Linked DNA regions of Homo sapiens: regions 1, 2 and 3 are each linked to region 4. Evidence: fine-mapped expression QTL. A gene starts in region 4. Each other region holds a variant in brackets. All regions are shown on one strand. Distances are from middle to middle.

Region 1 (4,268 bases), 200 kb after region 4:
GATTTACTGTTGTTGGGAATTTAGCTGTTTTCCATTTTTTGCTATCATAATTAGTGAAGTAACATTCATCATTGTAAATATATTTTTCAATATCTCTGTAACTGTTTCCTTAAGATAAATTTCCAGAAGTAGTATTGCTGGAACAAAGACTTTGAAGAATTTGTTTGTCCAAAATTGCCTTTTAGGCTTGGCATGGTGGCTCATGCCTGTAATCCCAGCTACTTGGGAGGCTGAGACAGGAGGACTGCTTGAAGTTGGGAGTTCGAGACCAGCCTGGACAACAAAGTGAGACTCCTGTCTCTACAAAAAGATAGAAAAATTAGCGGGGCATGGTGGCATACACCTGTAATACTAGCTACTCAGGAGGCTGAGGCGGGAGGATTGCTTGAGTCCAGAAATTCAAGGCTGCACTGAGCTGTGATTATGCCACTCCACTCCAGCCTGAGTGACAGAGAAACTCCTCAAAAATAAGTAAATAAAATTGCCTTTCAGAAAGCTTGTACCAGCTTACACAGTATTAATATGAGGGTGCTATATTCCTTGTACCTTCACCAATGCTAGATTTTGTATTTTAAAATTACCTTTTCTAATTTGCCAGGTGGGCATGATATTTCATTTTAACTTGTATACTATGACATTTTTTTTAAAAACCCCATAGAGTCACTTTGTTTTTACACATTACTAATTAAATACTTCAGCACAGTCACCTAGCCTCAGAATTCACTTTAGGGTAAGCTTTCAATGCCAACTTTCATCTTGCCATACCTGCAAACAGATGCATAATCATCTCTTTAATACCAGAGCACACATCTTCTGAAATTATATTAAAACCCATCCTTTTTTAAAAAACAGCAGAACTTGCTTGTGGTGTGAAGTTTCTTCTCTTGTCTCTTGATGGTATTTAGCCAAGCCACAGTTGAAATCAGAGGCTGTTTCTTATTCAGTTTTTTATTCGTTACATGGGCATTCTAATATTTTGAAAGGACAGATGGTGGACGGGTGGGTAGATAGATGTACAAAGGAATGAATAAACATGCATTTAGAACTTACCTGAAAAGTTACGTGTTGCATGGGAAGGCAACATATTATGATCCAAGTTAGAAGAAGCAGTTTCTAATTCTATAGTGGTTCTACCATTCACTTTTTATGACCTTGTCAATATTAATCTCCCTGTGGCTCAGTTTCCAGTGTCTTCAATATTAAATGCTCTTTTTAAGCCTTCTCATTGCCATTGGCTTACTTTAGTCTTTTTCACTTCATTCCTAAACTATTGTAAATTCTTCCCTACTCCCAACCCTGCCTTCAGTCTGTGCATTGTACTGCCATCTGATTAACCATCCTGCAGGACCATATTCATTGTCATTCCTCTGTTTGATCGATTTTTGACTGTTCCCCTTGGTCTATAGGATAAATCCAGTCCCCTTAGTTTTTCAATTTCCTACCTCTCAGCCTTTGTTTATAGCATTCTGTTATCCAACAATTAACTGGCTTCTTTCTTTCCTCTTATTCAAATCTCACTCTTACTTAAAAATTGGACTTCATTCCCTCCTGTTCATGAAGCCTCCTCTTCCACTCCTTCTCCAGTGATCCTTGTTTTGCCCCTGACTCTGTGACACTTGCTAAACTGTACCGGGGTTTTCAGTGTGGGTCTAAGGAAGCCTGGGGGTTTGAAGCTGTGCTTCAGCCGTACTAAGTGAGCGTAGGGAAGACCAAGAGCTCCACTCCCTCCCCATCCAACCTCCAGGCTGCTTTCTCTATTATATATGTTGAGATTTTGTTTAGTGTTTCCTTTGAAATTTTTCTTCTTTGGCCGTATCATTTATGGACTGTATTGTTACTTTTTTTTTTTTTTTTTTGTCAAATACATGTATCTCTTTTTCTTAATTAGGTTTTGTTACTTGAGGATCTTGAACTTTTTTGTCTCTCACTTGCTACCTTTCAGAATAAATATTTGTTGTTAACTTTACGGATTAATATTTGTTCTGCCTTGTTCACTGGATATTGTGAGACTGAAATGAGAAAAAGATGCTTTGAAAAGTAATGTCACAGCTGGGTGT[T/C]GTGGCACACGCCTGTAATCCCAGCAGTTTGGGAGGCCAAGGTAGGAAGATTGCCTGAGCCTAGGAGTTAGCGACCAGCCTGGACAACATGGGGAGATCCCATCTCTAAAAAAAAATAAAATAAAAAATAAAAAAAAAAGGCTGGGTATGGTGGCATGCACTTACTCAGGAGGCTGAGATTGCTTGGGCCCAGGAAGGGATTGCACCGCTTTACTCCAGCCTGGGCAACAGAGCAAGACCCTATCTCCAAAAATAAAAATAAAAAAAGAAATGTCAAATTAACTAAATGTTATTCCCTTTAGGGTATTATCTTGGAATGAGAATTTGTTGGAAGCTAAAACTTGACCACATTGTAATGTATTTTATTCAAATGGTTTAGAAACACCAAAAATTAATGTTATTGTCTGTTCACACAGACTAGCAGAAATGCAAACATGTAAAGACACAAATTTGTATTACATGAGAAGTACAGTTATAGAAGTTTGTTCAAGTATATCTGTGGAACAAAGAAGGCACATATAAGCTGTTTGCAGGTGAGCCAGAGAGTGTTTTCCTTTTAAAGGGTAGCTTGCCAGATCGAAGTTGCAAGATGAGCAAGGCAGAGAAGTAGGCAAACAGAGTAGAATATAAAAGGCTCCAAGACGTAGAACAAGATCTTGGGAACTATTATCCCATAGAGCTAGTGCATAACAATGCTGAAATTGGAGATAAGCTGGACCTGAATAGTCCAGTATGGCGGCCACAAGCCACATGTAATTACTTAAATTATGCAAAGTTTAAAATGCATTTATTTAGTCATACTAGCCACATATCAAGAGTATGTTAGGCATATGTGGCTAGTGTCCACTTTATCAAATGTAGAACATTTCCATTAGCATAGGAAGGGCTGTTTGGGCTGGGGCAGACCATAGAGGACTTTGTGAACTTAATTGAGGAGTTGGGCTTTTATCTTGTAGGCAGTTATGAGCCTTTGAAGAGTCTTAAGCAGGGGAGTAACATGACCAGACTTGCATTTTTAGAAGATTTCCAAACTTACAGGTATCAGTTCTCAAGTATATAGCAGTTTTAGAATCAGTCAAACATTTCTATCTAGCACATAGCTTTTGCTGAAAAAGTATAATTACAAGGGAATTAGGTAGCCTGATTAGAGTGGAGAATAAAATAGATATAGGATTTGAACATCTTTCAAGACTTCTAATTCCACTGCAGCATTCTCTTGGAAGCGGTTGTTATTCTTATGATAGTCTGGAAAAAAAATGTTTCTTTACTTTTTTAGGGAGATTACTGGGTGATAAATGTTAGTGATAATGTTATGTGATAAAAATTTTCACAAACTATTACTCAAGATATTTATATCCTTATTTTGTTATAGGATTTGCCATTATGTTTTGAAAGCTAAGACTAATAACTGCCATGACTTGATAATAAGTTGACTAAATCAAGATGTTAAATAGAATTGTCATACATTTATTAATCAAAGTAATTTAATTAGATTTACTAACAAAATAAAAATGTTGCTTTTAATAATTTGAATTAAACGTTCATGCACATTTACTAATTTGGGCCTTTTCTTACAGTTAACCCAGTATCCACTCCAGTTGCACTTCCCACACCAGCTCTTTCTCCAAGTTTGATGGCTGATCTTGAAGGTTTACACTTGTCAACTTCCTCTTCAGTCATCAGTGTAAGTTATTTTTAAAATCCACCAGCTCGGTTTTCTTATGTTGCCATTGTATCTTTTTTATTAAAATGTAAATACTTGAAGTGGATTCTTAGTTTTGAACAGATTCTTCTCTAAGAACAAGCCCAATTTAGCTAAGACCTTTTAATTTTTTAAATAATTTACTCAAACCATTATCTTCTCAATTTTTTTCCCTTGTTGTCCACACTTAATTATCATCTGTATGTTTTTCTCTGGTATTGTTATATATCTGTAACATACAAAGGTTCTTCACCACATTGACGCAGTACATATACCTGAACTGTGCCACAAAAAGTTGTCTACATTAACAGACTTTCATTTCCGTAATCGTTTTATTCCTACCACACTATTTTTTCATAGACTATTAAAAATTCATGACTGTTTTTATTTAAAAGTTCAAGATTTTTTTTTCTGTCTTATTTTTGTACATTTATTTACATGTGTTGGTGTCTTTAAAATTATTCTTTAATGTTATTTATAGAATGTGATGTGAAGTGAGGCTAGAACCT
Region 2 (4,268 bases), 460 kb after region 4:
GCCTCAGCCTCCTGAGTAGCTGGGATTACAGGCACCTGCCACCAAGCTCAGCTAATTTTTGTATTTTTAGTCGAAACGGGGTTTCACCATATTGGTCAGGCTGAGTCTCGAGCCCCTGACCTTGTGATCCACCTGCCTCGGCCTCCCAAAGTGTTGGGATTACAGGCGTGAGCCACCACGCCTGGCCAGGATTCTTACTTAAAAGATTGTAAATATCTCCAGGGTTGACTTAGAAAAATTCACTAACATAGGTACTTGCTGCATACAATGTGTGCAAAGAGGTGAATTCTTGGTAAACACATGTGTTTGGATTTCCCACTTTCAGGCCCCTGTGTTCTTGGTGAATATAAAAACAGACCCCGCCTTTCTAAACCATGAATCGGACACCTAAGAGGACCACAAAAAGAAAGATCTCAGGTGTCCTCAGAGTTCATTCTTTTTGTCTTTAGTATAGGCAGCTCTACCATTTAATTGCATCAATTTCTAAAAGAAATGTAACAAGATTTTAAGTGTGTGTTCTAGTTGATGCTTAAGCTGAAAGGAAATGAAGTACTCACAAATGTTATATAATATAAGCCAAAGGGTTTTCACAGTTAATTGAAACATCTGAGTAGCATGAAGATTACCTGTGTTTTATGTCTGCCACTGATGAGAAAACGAGAGATTGGTGTGATGTACTCATTGGTTTGTGAATATAAAGGTGTACGGAGAGTGTCACAAATCACCTTGATGTCCCTGAGAAGGAGATTTTACCTCTGAAGCCCTGATTAATAAAAAAAGATATTTAGCTCAATAGCTCTTGGTTGCCTATGCATCTGTGTGTTCTGACACACAGCAGGCCCCTTCATTTCAGGGCTGGAATAACTTACACTCATGAAATCAGCTCAGGATTCATTGTCTTTAGATTAGTATATGTAAAACATCTCAGTTGGAGGCAGTAAAGAGTCAAAACAAATCACACTACACCTGGTTTGAAGATCTGTTCTCATTTGCAAAGGTTATATGAATTTGATATAAGAATACCAGATCATTTTTCCCTGAGCACAAAATTTGTTTATGGCCTGTCCAGAAAAGAAGTGGCAAAGACAGAGAGTTAGATATATTCATCGTCTGCTGTGTGCATGCCTGAGGTCAGCCTGATTTCTGCTGAACTCCAGGTTTTTTTTCTTTTCTGAAGGTGGGGAAGCTTTGGGAGGGAGTGGTCAGGGTGGTGAGCAGCAGGAACAAGAAGACTTGAGCTAAAAGCCCTACTGGACTTGTCATATCCACTTGCACTAGCATACACATAGCTAAAGAACAGACTAGAAGGAATTCAAAGGAACAAATACGCAGATCGAACTTCAATGTTCCCTGTCAGGCATAACATCCTGTGTTGTCTTCAGTAAGGGAAATGGAAGGGGAAGCTCCTCTAGGTTAAAAGGACCAAACCACCACCACCACCAGACAATTACACTGCCCGGGGCTCAGAGTGATTTTTGACTGTTTGTGACTGCATAGCTGGTTGGGAGTGGAGCCAGTTTCCCAGTTCAGTAACTTTTCTTCTACACCACAAAGAATGTTTCCCAGAAAGCTTATTTCCACAGGTAGTTAGCAAAACAAGTGTTACAAAAAGGGGTGATATGGTCCAATAAGGTTAGGAAGCAGACGTTTAAATCCATTCTTTTATTTAAACAATGTTAAGCAGTTTTCTTAGGGGCAGGGCTCCTCAGAGTCCTCATTTGCCGTTGTTGATTGTGACTTACTGATATAGGGTGCAGTGTTCCCAGGCGTGCTTGATGACAGAATCTTTTTCTGTTTTTTGGATCATGGAGGCTCTTTCAGGTTTAGTGATCACAAGGCACCCTTTGGACAAACTTTGTCTACATCAAGGTGATCCTGCAGTGACTGCTTATGTGCTTATTGGTCGAGAGAAGACCAATTCACAGTGTGATGAGGCACTGAAGGGTGAGTCAGGCTCTCAGACCTGCAGGAGCCTTCTCTGCTGAATGAGGTAGTTGGTCTAGAGGAGTGGTTCTCAATTAGTGAAGCAGTTTTATCACACCTGCTGGCAGTGGGACTAGAGGCGAGGAGGGAGCATGCGTGGTAGGCAAAGCTTTCTCCCTCCCCAGTGAAGAATGACTGATTTAGATGTCCCTCCCCATGGTACCTTTATTGACCTAATAACATCGTACATGCATATATTATTTGACTCAGCAATTCTTCTTACAGGAATTTTTCTTACTGGCAAAGTTACATTTTTAAAATACACATAGTGATATTCATCGAAGCAGTATTGGTATTATATTAACAAGAGATCAGAAATGGCTAAATATCTACCAAAGGAAAATATGTAGCCATTACAAAGAATAGAACTACCTCCCTCTGTATGATTAAATGAGAAAAGCAAAGCATGGACACTATAGAGCAGGCAACCTTGGAATAAAACTATATTATACACACTATCAATGTAAGAAA[T/A]ATATTTAAAAGCATATATATAAAGCATATGTTTGTTTATATATTGAATATCTCTGGGAAAATACGCAGAAAGCGTAACAGTTGTTATACTGGAGTGTCTTGGGGACAGAGTTGCCAAAGAGACTTATTTTATACTGTGTACCCTTTTGCACTGTTTGAATTTTTTTCCATATGCAAGGTAGCTGTTCCCAGTTCCTTTTCCCCCCATAAATGTATGCCAATCTTCATATCAACAGATGGAGTCTCTTTCTCCTGCTTTTGAATCTGGGCTGATTTTGTGACACACATTGGTGGGGAAGTGTCCATGAGGTAGGTCCACCCCTAGCCTTTGGGAGAAATGGCAGCTTCTGCTTCTGCCGCCGCTTCCATTAGAAGCCAGCTAACCTCAACCTTCAGGTAAGAAGTTCAATTGCCCTAAGAGCACTATGCTATGAAGAAGCCAATCTAGCCACGTAGAAAAGCCGCATGGAGGGAGAGATGCCCAGCCAGCCCCAAGCTGTTCTAGCCATCCCTGTTGAGGCACCCAATAGGCAAGTAAAGAAGCCATCTCAGACATTTCAGCCCCAGCAGCCAACACATGGAGCAGAAGAATCATCCCGGTGAGCCTGTCTCAGATTGCAGAACTGTAAAAAAAAATACATTGTTGTTTTAAATCAGTAAGTTTTGGAGTGGTTTACTAAGCAGCAAGAGATAAAAAATAATTACCTATTCAACATAAATATGTAAATTAACTTAAAAAGTGTTAATTCATATAATTTTGTATAAATGTAGGATTAGAGAGCAATTTAATAGGAGGATAAAGGAAGGGAGCTACAGGTGACTGCAGTGAGGCACCAGAGGGTATCACTTGGGGGAAAAGAGTGAACCTAGTGGGGAGTATAGGCAATTTTGCTGACTCCAAAAATTACCCTACGTCTTGCTTCTGTCAGAGTACCACATCTCCATCCCATCCTTCTATCTGTCTCTCTTTGTCACACATACACCACTTAATTATTCTCATAATTGGAGGGACAGGAGGGAATGTAAAGCAGGTTAATTGCTACCACCATCAACCAGTGTCTGCGACTGTGAATTGAGCGTGTGTTCCAAGTTACACCACTGGATGCCCTTTGGGAACTGGTAATACAACATAAAAAGAAATAAGACAAAAGAACCTAAGTAGCACAACCTCAATATTTCAAAATAATAGACAAGAGGAAGAGGCAATTAGTTTGATTTTAATGAAAAGAATGAATTCTAAAAGATTTCAAAGTGCTGCAGTTATTACTTTTAAGTACAGTGCATTTTACAAAGCTATAAATGGGTACCTAATAAGTTAAATGAGGTAAGTTAATGAAAGAATTAAGATTCACAAGAGGCCTACGTTATATAATTATGTATCATAAAACAGAAAGTCCTTTAACATGCTGAAATTAATTGGATGACCCAGAAATTGAAGGTACATAGAAGTTTTAGTTTGAAAAAGCAACTAATTTCAGATTAATGCTTTGTACATAGTAGGCATTCAACAGATGCTTGGTGAAGTAAAATGAACCAATTAGCAAAGTCCATTAGCAATAGTCACTCGCTCTGGACTGAGGATTATATCCAATTCCCAGTGTGTACTGGTAACTGCACCTTCACTCAAAAGCATATCCAAAGGTAACTGAGAATGAAAGGATAACCTTGAGCGTGTTCTCGTTTATTTTTTTGAAAAGCAAATCATTTAAAAACATCAGTAATAGAACTATCAATAGTAAAAAATTACTTGCCGAATATTGCAGTTAAGAACAACTGACTTAAGAAATTTTCTTCAGAAAATTGCAATTAAAGTG
Region 3 (4,268 bases), 170 kb after region 4:
ATGGTTCCTCCTACGGACATACTTTCTCTCCTAATTTCTTATTATGCTTGTTTGTTGTTTTTATGGTTCGTTTTTTTTTTTCATTATGGGGTACATGATGTTTTAGCCCAAGTAGAACCATCCTTTTAACCTTCCCCTGCTTCCGCCTTATCTCTCCCTCCTTGCTGCCCCCACCCACCAAAAAGCATTATCTTCTCAGAGTTGATAGCAATGCTATGCAATTTAATTTGGTCTCAGCAGTATTCTTTATTGGCTGATAGATTGGTTTGTTGGCTGGCTTCTTCCATTTTCATGTGCTCTTCTAAGCATTAACTACCTTATAGGGACAGTACTTAAATATAACATATTATGTTCGTTTCACCTGTCCAATTCAACAGAGACAAATTAATTTCTTTTTCATTTTGCTGATTATATTTATGAAATTAATAATTGGTAACTTAGAGAGAATCATTATAACTGATTGAACATGGTTTGATAAAACTGTCACTGTCTGTTGATGCCATGCAGAAAACAGCTTCAGTCTATTGGACTCTGAGACAATTGGCTTAAAATTATACTATGAGGGACACAATTAAATATAAAAATAACGTAGATAGTTTTCTTTTTAAATGCAGCTACAATACAAAAAATAATGTCCGTATTATCTTTCTTGTCTCTCACTCTACTTCATCTCCCTTCCAAGTCATGTCACTGTATTTCATGCATATAATATACTATGTTATTCTAGTTTTCCTGTAAAGTGATCTTACATGGTCAAGTCCTGTAACTGTGAAATATAACTTAGTAAGAAAAATGACCTAGGTTTAGATAATCTGATATTTTAATCAAAATGACTGGGAACCTAGTCAGATTGACAGTAGAAGTCACTTTGAATTACACACCACCATTTCTAGGATATAGGATATAATATATATTTATATTATGATCCCAGTAAGTTTTGAAGATCCTTAGTTAATAATTTATTTGCTTAGTTCTAGAAAGTCCTTTCTTCTCTACTGACAGAAAGACCGCCTTCTGCATATGAAGGGTATTTTGCTTCATAAACACATCTGTCAATATTTTATCCTTTACAGAAACTTTCAAATTAGCGTCTATGTTCTCTTCTTTTCTTTTCTTTTCTTTTCCCTATTATTCCTTTTCCTTACAATGATAATGTGGTCTTTTAGTCATAAAGGACCACAATACAAATTAAGATACTTTTATTGTTCGTCTTTGGCCTTTTAAAACCTGAAACTCCATAGAATTCATGGCCATGTCAAGAAAAAATGCACGTTTGAGCATAGAAGTCTGGTTTTCCGAAATTGTTGATTTAGTGTTATTAAATTAATCCAACAAACGTTTTATCAGACCTCAGAGAAATATGTTTGGATTTAAGAAAAATATGGACTTCAGAGTTTACCAAATATAAGAGAGCTTTGTTTATAGAATACTATCTTTGTAGACAGAAGCATTTTAAATAAATATAAAAGAAAGCCATACTGCTGATCTTATATAAGCATCTTATTCAAATATATTCAAGCTTCTCTTTTTAAGCAACATACCTTAAACCCTCTAGATCAGTGGTTTTATTTTTATTTGCTTTTATTTATTTTTTTGAGACATGATTTTGCTCTGTCACCCAGGCTGGAGTGCAGTGGTGCGATCATAGCTCACTGCAGCCTCAAACTCCTGGGCTCAAGCCATCCTCCTGCCTCAGCTCCCAAAGTGCTGAGAGTACAGGTATGAGCTACATCACCCAGCCTTAGACTAGTGGTTTTTAAATGTAGCTGCGCATTATAATCATATGGAGATTTTGTGTGTGTGTGTGTGTTTAATTTTTATTTTATTATTATACTTTTAGGGTACATGTGCACAATGTGCAGGTTTGTTACATATGTATACATGTGCCATGTTGGTGTGCTGCACCCATTAACTCGTCATTTAGCATTAGGTATATCTCCAAATGCTATCCCTCCCCACTCGCCCCACCCCACAACAGTCCCTGGAGTGTGATGTTCCCCTTCCTGTGTCCATGTGTTCTCATTGTTCATTTCCCACCTATGAGTGAGAACATGTGGTGTTTGGTTTTTTGTCCTTGTGATAGTTTGCTGAGAATGATGGTTTCCAGTTTCATCCATGTCCCTACAAAGGACATGAACTCATCATTTTTTATGGCTGCATAGTATTCTATGGTGTATATGTACCACATTTTCTTAATCCAGTCTGTCGTTGTTGGACATTTGTGTTGGTTCCAAGTCTTTGCTATTGTGAATAGTGCCGCAATAAACATACATGTGCCTGTGTCTTTATAGCAGCATGATTTATAATCCTTTGGGTATATACCCAGTAATGGGATGGCTGGGTCAAATGGTATTTCTAGTTCTAGATCCCTGAGGAATCGCCACACTGACTTCCACAATGGTTGAACTAGTTTACAGTCCCACCAACAGTGTAAAAGTGTTCCTATTTCTCCACATCCTCTCCAGCACCTGTTGTTTCCTGACTTTTTAATGATTGCCATTCTAACTGGTGTGAGATGGTATCTCATTGTGGTTTTGATTTGCATTTCTCTGATGGTCAGTGATGACGAGCATTTTTTCATGTGTTTTTTGGCTGCATAAATGTCTTCTTTTGAGAAGTGTCTGTTCACATCCTTC[G/A]CCCACTTTTTGATGGGGTTGTTTGTTTTTTTCTTGTAAATTTGTTTGAGTTCATTGTAGATTCTGGATATTAGCCCTTTGTCAGATGAGTAGGTTGCAAAAATTTTCTCCCATTCTGTAGATTGCCTGTTCACTCTGATGGTAGTTTCTTTTGCTGTGCAGAAGCTCTTTAGTTTAATTACGTCCCATTTGTCAATTTTGGCTTTTGTTACCATTGCTTTTGGTGTTTTAGACATGAAGTCCTTGCCCATGCCTCTGTCCTGAATGGTATTGCCTAGGTTTTCTTCTAGGGTTTTTATGGTTTTAGATCTAACATTTAAGTCTTTAATCCATCTTGAATTAATTTTTGTATAAGGTGTAAGGAAGGGATCCAGTTTCAGCTTTCTACATCTGGCTAGCCAGTTTTCCCAGCACCATTTATTAAATAGGGAATCCTTTCCCCGTTGCTTGTTTTTCTCAGGTTTGTCAAAGATCAGATGGTTGTAGATATGCGGCATTATTTCTGAGGGCTCTGTTCTGTTCCATTGATCTATATCTCTGTTTTGGTACCAGTACCATGCTGTTTTGGTTACTGTAGACTTGTAGTATAGTTTGAAGTCAGATGGCATGATGCCTCCAGCTTTGTTCTTTTGGCTTAGGATTGACTTGGCGATGCGGACTCTTTCTTGGTTCCATATGAACTTTAAAGTAGTTTTTTCCAATTCTGTGAAGAAAGTCATTGGTAGCTTGATGGGGATGGCATTGAATCTATAAATTACCTTGGGCAGTATGGCCATTTTCACGGTATTGATTCTTCCTACCCATGAGCATGGAATGTTCCTCCATTTGTTTGTATCCTCTTTTATTTCATTGAGCAGTGGTTTGTAGTTCTCCTTGAAGAGGTCCTTCCCATCCCTTGTAAGTTGGATTCCTAGGTATTTTATTCTCTTTGAAGCAATTGTGAATGGGAGTTCACTCATGATTTGGCTCTCTGTTTGTCCGTTATTGGTGTATAAGAATGCTTGTGATTTTTGCACATTGATTTTGTATCCTGAGACTTTGCTGAAGTTGCTTATCAGCTTAAGGAGATTTTGGGCTGAGACGATGGGTTTTCTAGATAAACAATCATGTCATGTGCAAACAGGGACAATTTGACTTCATCTTTTCCTAATTGAATGCCCTTTATTTCCTTCTCCTGCCTAACTGCCCTGGCCAGAACTTCCAACCCTATGTTGAATAGGAGTGGTGAGAGAGGGCATCCCTGTCTTGTGCCAGTTTTCAAAGGGAATGCTTCCAGTTTTTGCCCATGCTGTATGATATTGGCTGTGGGTTTGTCATAGATAGCTCTTATTATTTTGAGATACATCCCATCAATACCTAATTTATTGAGAGTTTTTAGCATGAAGGGTTGTTGAATTTTGTCAAAGGCCGTTTCTGCATCTATTGAGATAATCATGTGGTTTTTGTCTTTGGTTCTGTTTATATGCTGGATTACATTTATTGATTTGTGTATGTTGAACCAGCCTTGCATCCCAGGGATGAAGCCCACTTGATCATGGTGGATAAGCTTTTTGATGTGCTGCTGGATTCGGTTTGCCAGTATTTTATTGAGTATTTTTGCATCAATGTTCATCAAGGATATTGGTCTAAAAT
Region 4 (4,268 bases):
AAAAATTTAGGATATCTGGTAAAAGTGTACATGCTCTAAAACCAAGAAATTCTGTAATCAGGTATGTGTCCGAGATTTTCCAGGCTATGTGTATATCAATGTTCTCATTTTACAAATAAAGTAATCAAAGCCTAGCTCTTTTTACTATTAATATATATAAAACTACTTAGAACTTTTAATATATATTAAAAGTTAACTATTTTAACTTAAAAGTATTTATTTTAACTTAAAATAAATTTTTTTATATTAAAAGTTAACTACTTTAACTATTTATATATATAAAACTACTTAGAAGTTTTAATATATATAAAACTACTTATATCCTGGTATATATTAAGGATTATATAATAATATATAGTTATCTATGATCATCCTCATCCTCATCATCAATAGTCAGTTGTAGGTGAAATTCTATTAATTAATACTGACAAATAACACATTTTAGGTGCTCATCATTGGCTCTCCGGAGGAGTATTCTAACAGCTGAATTAAAAACCTGCCAATATTTGACCAGACGATCAAGTTTGGAGGACGTCCCTTCCTCTCCCACCCAGAGCCACGCTCTTGCGTGCTTCCACAGTGACAGTGTGACCTTTTGAAATTTGGAGATCATACTCTCATCCTTGAAAACGCCCCACCGCCTTCCCTGGGGCGGCCGGCCTCCAGGTTCGCGTTCTACCTGGTAGAATCCCTTGACAGTTTCAGTACCTGGCCGCCAGGGCTTTGGGTGTTAATGCCTTCCTTGGACGGGAGGCACTGGGGAGAAGAGAGGGAAGGCGCTGAAACCCACCTGAGAAGGCGGGCTGGGGGAAGGCACCCCGGGAAAGAGGTTTTCTCGGGTGCCAGCACCCGGAGAGAGCTACTCTGGGGCCAGGCAAGCATCCCGCCTAGGCTCCCTAGTGCATATTAGTGAGTAACACGACTGGCGCGCGAGGTGGTCCATTTTATTTTTGGTAGCTAGACGCCAATAGGACGCACCACTTCAGCTCCAAACGGGAACTGGTGGCCCCAAGATGTTTTCTTTTCTTTTTCATTTTTTTGAGACAGGGTCTCGCTCTGTCGCCCAGGCTGGAATGCAGTGGAGAGATCTCAACTCATCGCTACCCCCTCCTTCTGGGTTCGAGTGATCCTCCCACCTCAGCCTCAGTAGCTGGGACCACAGACACGCGCCACCACGCCGGCTAATTTTTATATTTTTTGCAGAGAAAGGGTCTCGCTATGTTGCCTAGGCTGGTCTCGAACTCCTGGCCTCAAGTGATCCACCCGCCTCGGCCTCCCAAAGTGCTGGAATTACTGGCGTGAGCCACCGCGCCCGGTCTGCCCCCAAGACTTTCATTGAAAAGATGGAATGGTCGCTTCTGTGCGGATCCTCCAAACCATCGTTGGGAGAGGCCTCCTTAAAGTCTAGGAGAAAAGTTGTTTGGGACCGATATGAAAGTAAGGCAAAGCCGGATGGAAGAGAGTAGCCGAAACAAGCAAGAAAAGGAAAAGCGATCGTGATGGGTTTAGGAAAGGTGATCTGGCGTGCTAAATGGCATTTCCGGAGAAATCTGAAAACTATTGCTTTACTGAAGTATAGCAAAGAGCTGTCCGGGCTCTGGAAACTCCTTAACGGATCAAAACGGATGCAATGGGTATCCTTCTCCAAAGACACACCTCAAACGGGCCGGGAGCCGGGCAGTTAGCCACCCGCTGCCTCCCCTTCCGCAGTCCGGCTCGCAGCCGCTCAGCTACCTCTAAAGCCCGGAGCAGGAAAGTCCGCGCAGGCCTGGATGGCCCGGGTGGTAATCTAGCAGGCCTGCACACTGCGCATGCGCAGGGGGTGGACTGCCAGGTCGGCTCAGGGAGCCGTGACGAGTCCGGAAGCGCCTGCGCGCGCTCCTCCGTACGAGAACTAGTTTTGTTCCGTGCCCTCTGGACTGGAACCTTTTGGAGAGAACCCCCGGCAGGACCAACCCCGCACCCGCCAGCACCGCGGCAATGTCCAGCAATAGTTTTCCTTACAATGAGCAGTCCGGAGGAGGGGAGGCGACGGAGCTGGGTCAGGAGGCGACCTCAACCATTTCCCCCTCGGGGGCCTTCGGCCTCTTTAGCAGCGATTTGAAGAAGTGAGGAGAAAGGTTTGGGTTGCGGGGATGGGAGGGAGGAGCTGCGGACTCGGAGGAGTGGGCGCCAGGGTGGGCTTCCTGGAGAGGAGCGGGGTCGCCCTGAGGTCTGAGCAGGGCAGGGCGGTAACGTGTCCCGCGGGTGGGTAGGTGGGGTTGGTTGGCGGTGGTGGGAGTTGTGGGAGTTTGGGGCGAATGTGTGTAGGGGTCTCTAGTAGTTTTCAAACTTTAGTGAAAAGGAAACCACTTGGTGAGCTTAGATCCCACCCCTGAAGACACTGATTGAATTGGACTTGGGCTGGGCTCAGGAGTCTGAATTTTGAGCATCGTCTTCTAGTTTATTTACCGTTCGCCGGATCAGACTTTAATACATTCCCTGATTAGGGTGAAAGGAGTGTTTTGGTGAAGGTGAGAGTGCGAGTGTTGCTTGTGGGAAGTTATTTTGTGACCCCGGAGTGTAGGAGCAGAGAGGTGGATTTAGGCTGTTTGAATGGACAAACTGGTTTACACCAGTATTAATGTTCTTGGATTATGTCCTTTGCACTACAGACAAAAACACCAATCCAAAATAAGCATATGAATAGAAAATATTTTAAAAGAGTGTTACTGTGAACAAATCCAAAACTTTTACAGATTAATAATGTGAATTTTAAAAACGAATGTTAAACAAGGTACACTTAGTTTTGTAAAAAGTATCACCGAGAAATGGAAAGAAATCCCAAGTTGTTTGTTTTGGGGGGTGGGTTGGTGGTAGTGGTTACATTTACCAGAATTATCATTTTTACATTTCTCTTATTTTAAATCTTTCATTACTAAGCAATAGGGTCACATAATAGTCTGTCACTAAATTCATGCTAAATTAAGGTAGAATAGCTGTGCTAGTAGCTTTGCAGATCTGTTAGAGGGTATAATTAAAATTTAAATTAAACGTTACTAACAATATTGGGTAGTCTAGAAAGTGCTACTACTTCAAATTGGGATTACATTTTGGCTGTATTGAGGATCAAAATCATATATATAGCATGTAAGATACAATCTTTTCCTTTTTCCCAAGGTTAGAAAAGTTTAAAAGTAAGGTAACTGATTTCATTTTTCATTATATGCATTTGATGATCCATTGTTCTAGAACAAGTACGGAGCTTGTTGCCTCTACTATTAGCAAAATGTTTAGACTGAATTAACCTGTATATCGGCATCAATCTGTTTCGCAAATTAATTTACTTTTATGGTTTGTGAACATCTACGATGTTTTCTCTTAGATTTTTGTCAGATTTGGGGCCAGGCACTGCGGCTCACGCCTGTAATCCCAGCACTTTGGGAGGGTGAGGTGGGCGGATCGCTTGAGGCCAGGAGTTCGAGACCAGCCTGGCCAACATGGTGAAACCCCGTCTCTACTAAAAATACAAAAATTAGCCGGGCGTGGTGGCTCGTGCCTGTAATCCCAGCTACTCGGGAGGCTGAGGCAGGAGAATCGCTTGAACCCGGGAGGCGGAAGCTGCAGTGAGCCGAGATCGCGCCACAGCACTCAAACGTGGGCGACAGAGTGAGACTCCGTCTCAAAAAAAGAAAAAAAAGAAAAAGATTTTTGTCAAATTTGGACCTGATTTGGAAAAAAAAAACAAAAAAAACTTACGGCTTTGACTCTGTGACCAGTGCTCTTGAGGTGACCTAACAGGTTGGATTTAAAATAAAAGTAGCTAATTGATTAGAGGTGATATGTAATATATGCAAATAACCATGGTTGAATTGTGTTCCCCGAAAGATATTTATTGAGTATTTGTGCACACCACTTTACATTTATTATCTCATTCAGTTTTCCTAAACAACCCTGCAGGTTATTACCAGGTACTTCTCTGCTCCCACTTTACACGTGAGGAAATTGGAGCAAGGTTGTTAACTTGGAAAAGGCCACAAAGGTAGAACATTGCACTGCCTGAATTTGAACTCAGGGGCTCTAATATTAGAGCCCATTCTCTCAAAAGTTTAGATGTGCTACTTACTACTTGATGAAATGTATGGTATTTTTATTAGTGAGTGCATACAACTCACAAAAAGTTTAAAACTTTAAATAGTAGCTCCAAGTAGTACCACCAGAGAAGCTTCCAGGGATTAGAAACATTTGGCTATTGACCTGCAGTCTAATGGAATTGTACAGAAACAAGG

Which allele goes with the higher level. Positions count from the first base shown, and alleles are read on the strand shown. Sizes are in standard deviations (SD) of each study's normalised expression. Not every link is listed here.
For the expression in subcutaneous fat of the gene that starts at base 1,862 in region 4, allele A in region 2 goes with a lower level than allele T (moderate effect, 0.54 SD a copy in GTEx).
As copies of A replace G in region 3, the expression in monocytes of the gene that starts at base 1,862 in region 4 goes down (moderate effect, 0.57 SD a copy in Fairfax 2014).

Evidence for each region. PIP is the estimated chance that this variant, and not a neighbour inherited with it, causes the effect. A credible set is the group of variants that fine-mapping cannot tell apart.
Region 1: its variant is the best candidate, but not a certain one, in a credible set for the expression of AP3B1 in whole blood (TOPMed, PIP 0.61).
Region 2: its variant is the best candidate, but not a certain one, in a credible set for the expression of AP3B1 in subcutaneous fat (GTEx, PIP 0.50).
Region 3: its variant is the best candidate, but not a certain one, in a credible set for the expression of AP3B1 in monocytes (Fairfax 2014, PIP 0.80).

What each region holds. Positions count from the first base shown.
Region 1 is chr5:78,088,866-78,093,133 of GRCh38, reverse strand. AP3B1 (adaptor related protein complex 3 subunit beta 1) reads left to right here. Exons shown (of 27, transcript NM_003664.5): 22 at 3,635-3,741. Among named protein-coding and RNA genes, the nearest start is that of AP3B1, 200 kb to the left of the region's middle. The variant T/C (reference allele first, on the strand shown) is at 2,058.
Region 2 is chr5:77,830,286-77,834,553 of GRCh38, reverse strand. No RefSeq gene overlaps it. Among named protein-coding and RNA genes, the nearest start is that of TBCA, 56 kb to the right of the region's middle. The variant T/A (reference allele first, on the strand shown) is at 2,455.
Region 3 is chr5:78,121,902-78,126,169 of GRCh38, reverse strand. All of the region lies in intron 17 of AP3B1 (adaptor related protein complex 3 subunit beta 1), which reads left to right. Among named protein-coding and RNA genes, the nearest start is that of AP3B1, 170 kb to the left of the region's middle. The variant G/A (reference allele first, on the strand shown) is at 2,637.
Region 4 is chr5:78,292,292-78,296,559 of GRCh38, reverse strand. It overlaps AP3B1 (adaptor related protein complex 3 subunit beta 1), which reads left to right and starts at 1,862. Exons shown (of 27, transcript NM_003664.5): 1 at 1,862-2,108. The coding sequence starts at 1,981. RefSeq lists enhancers at 602-651, 1,026-1,599.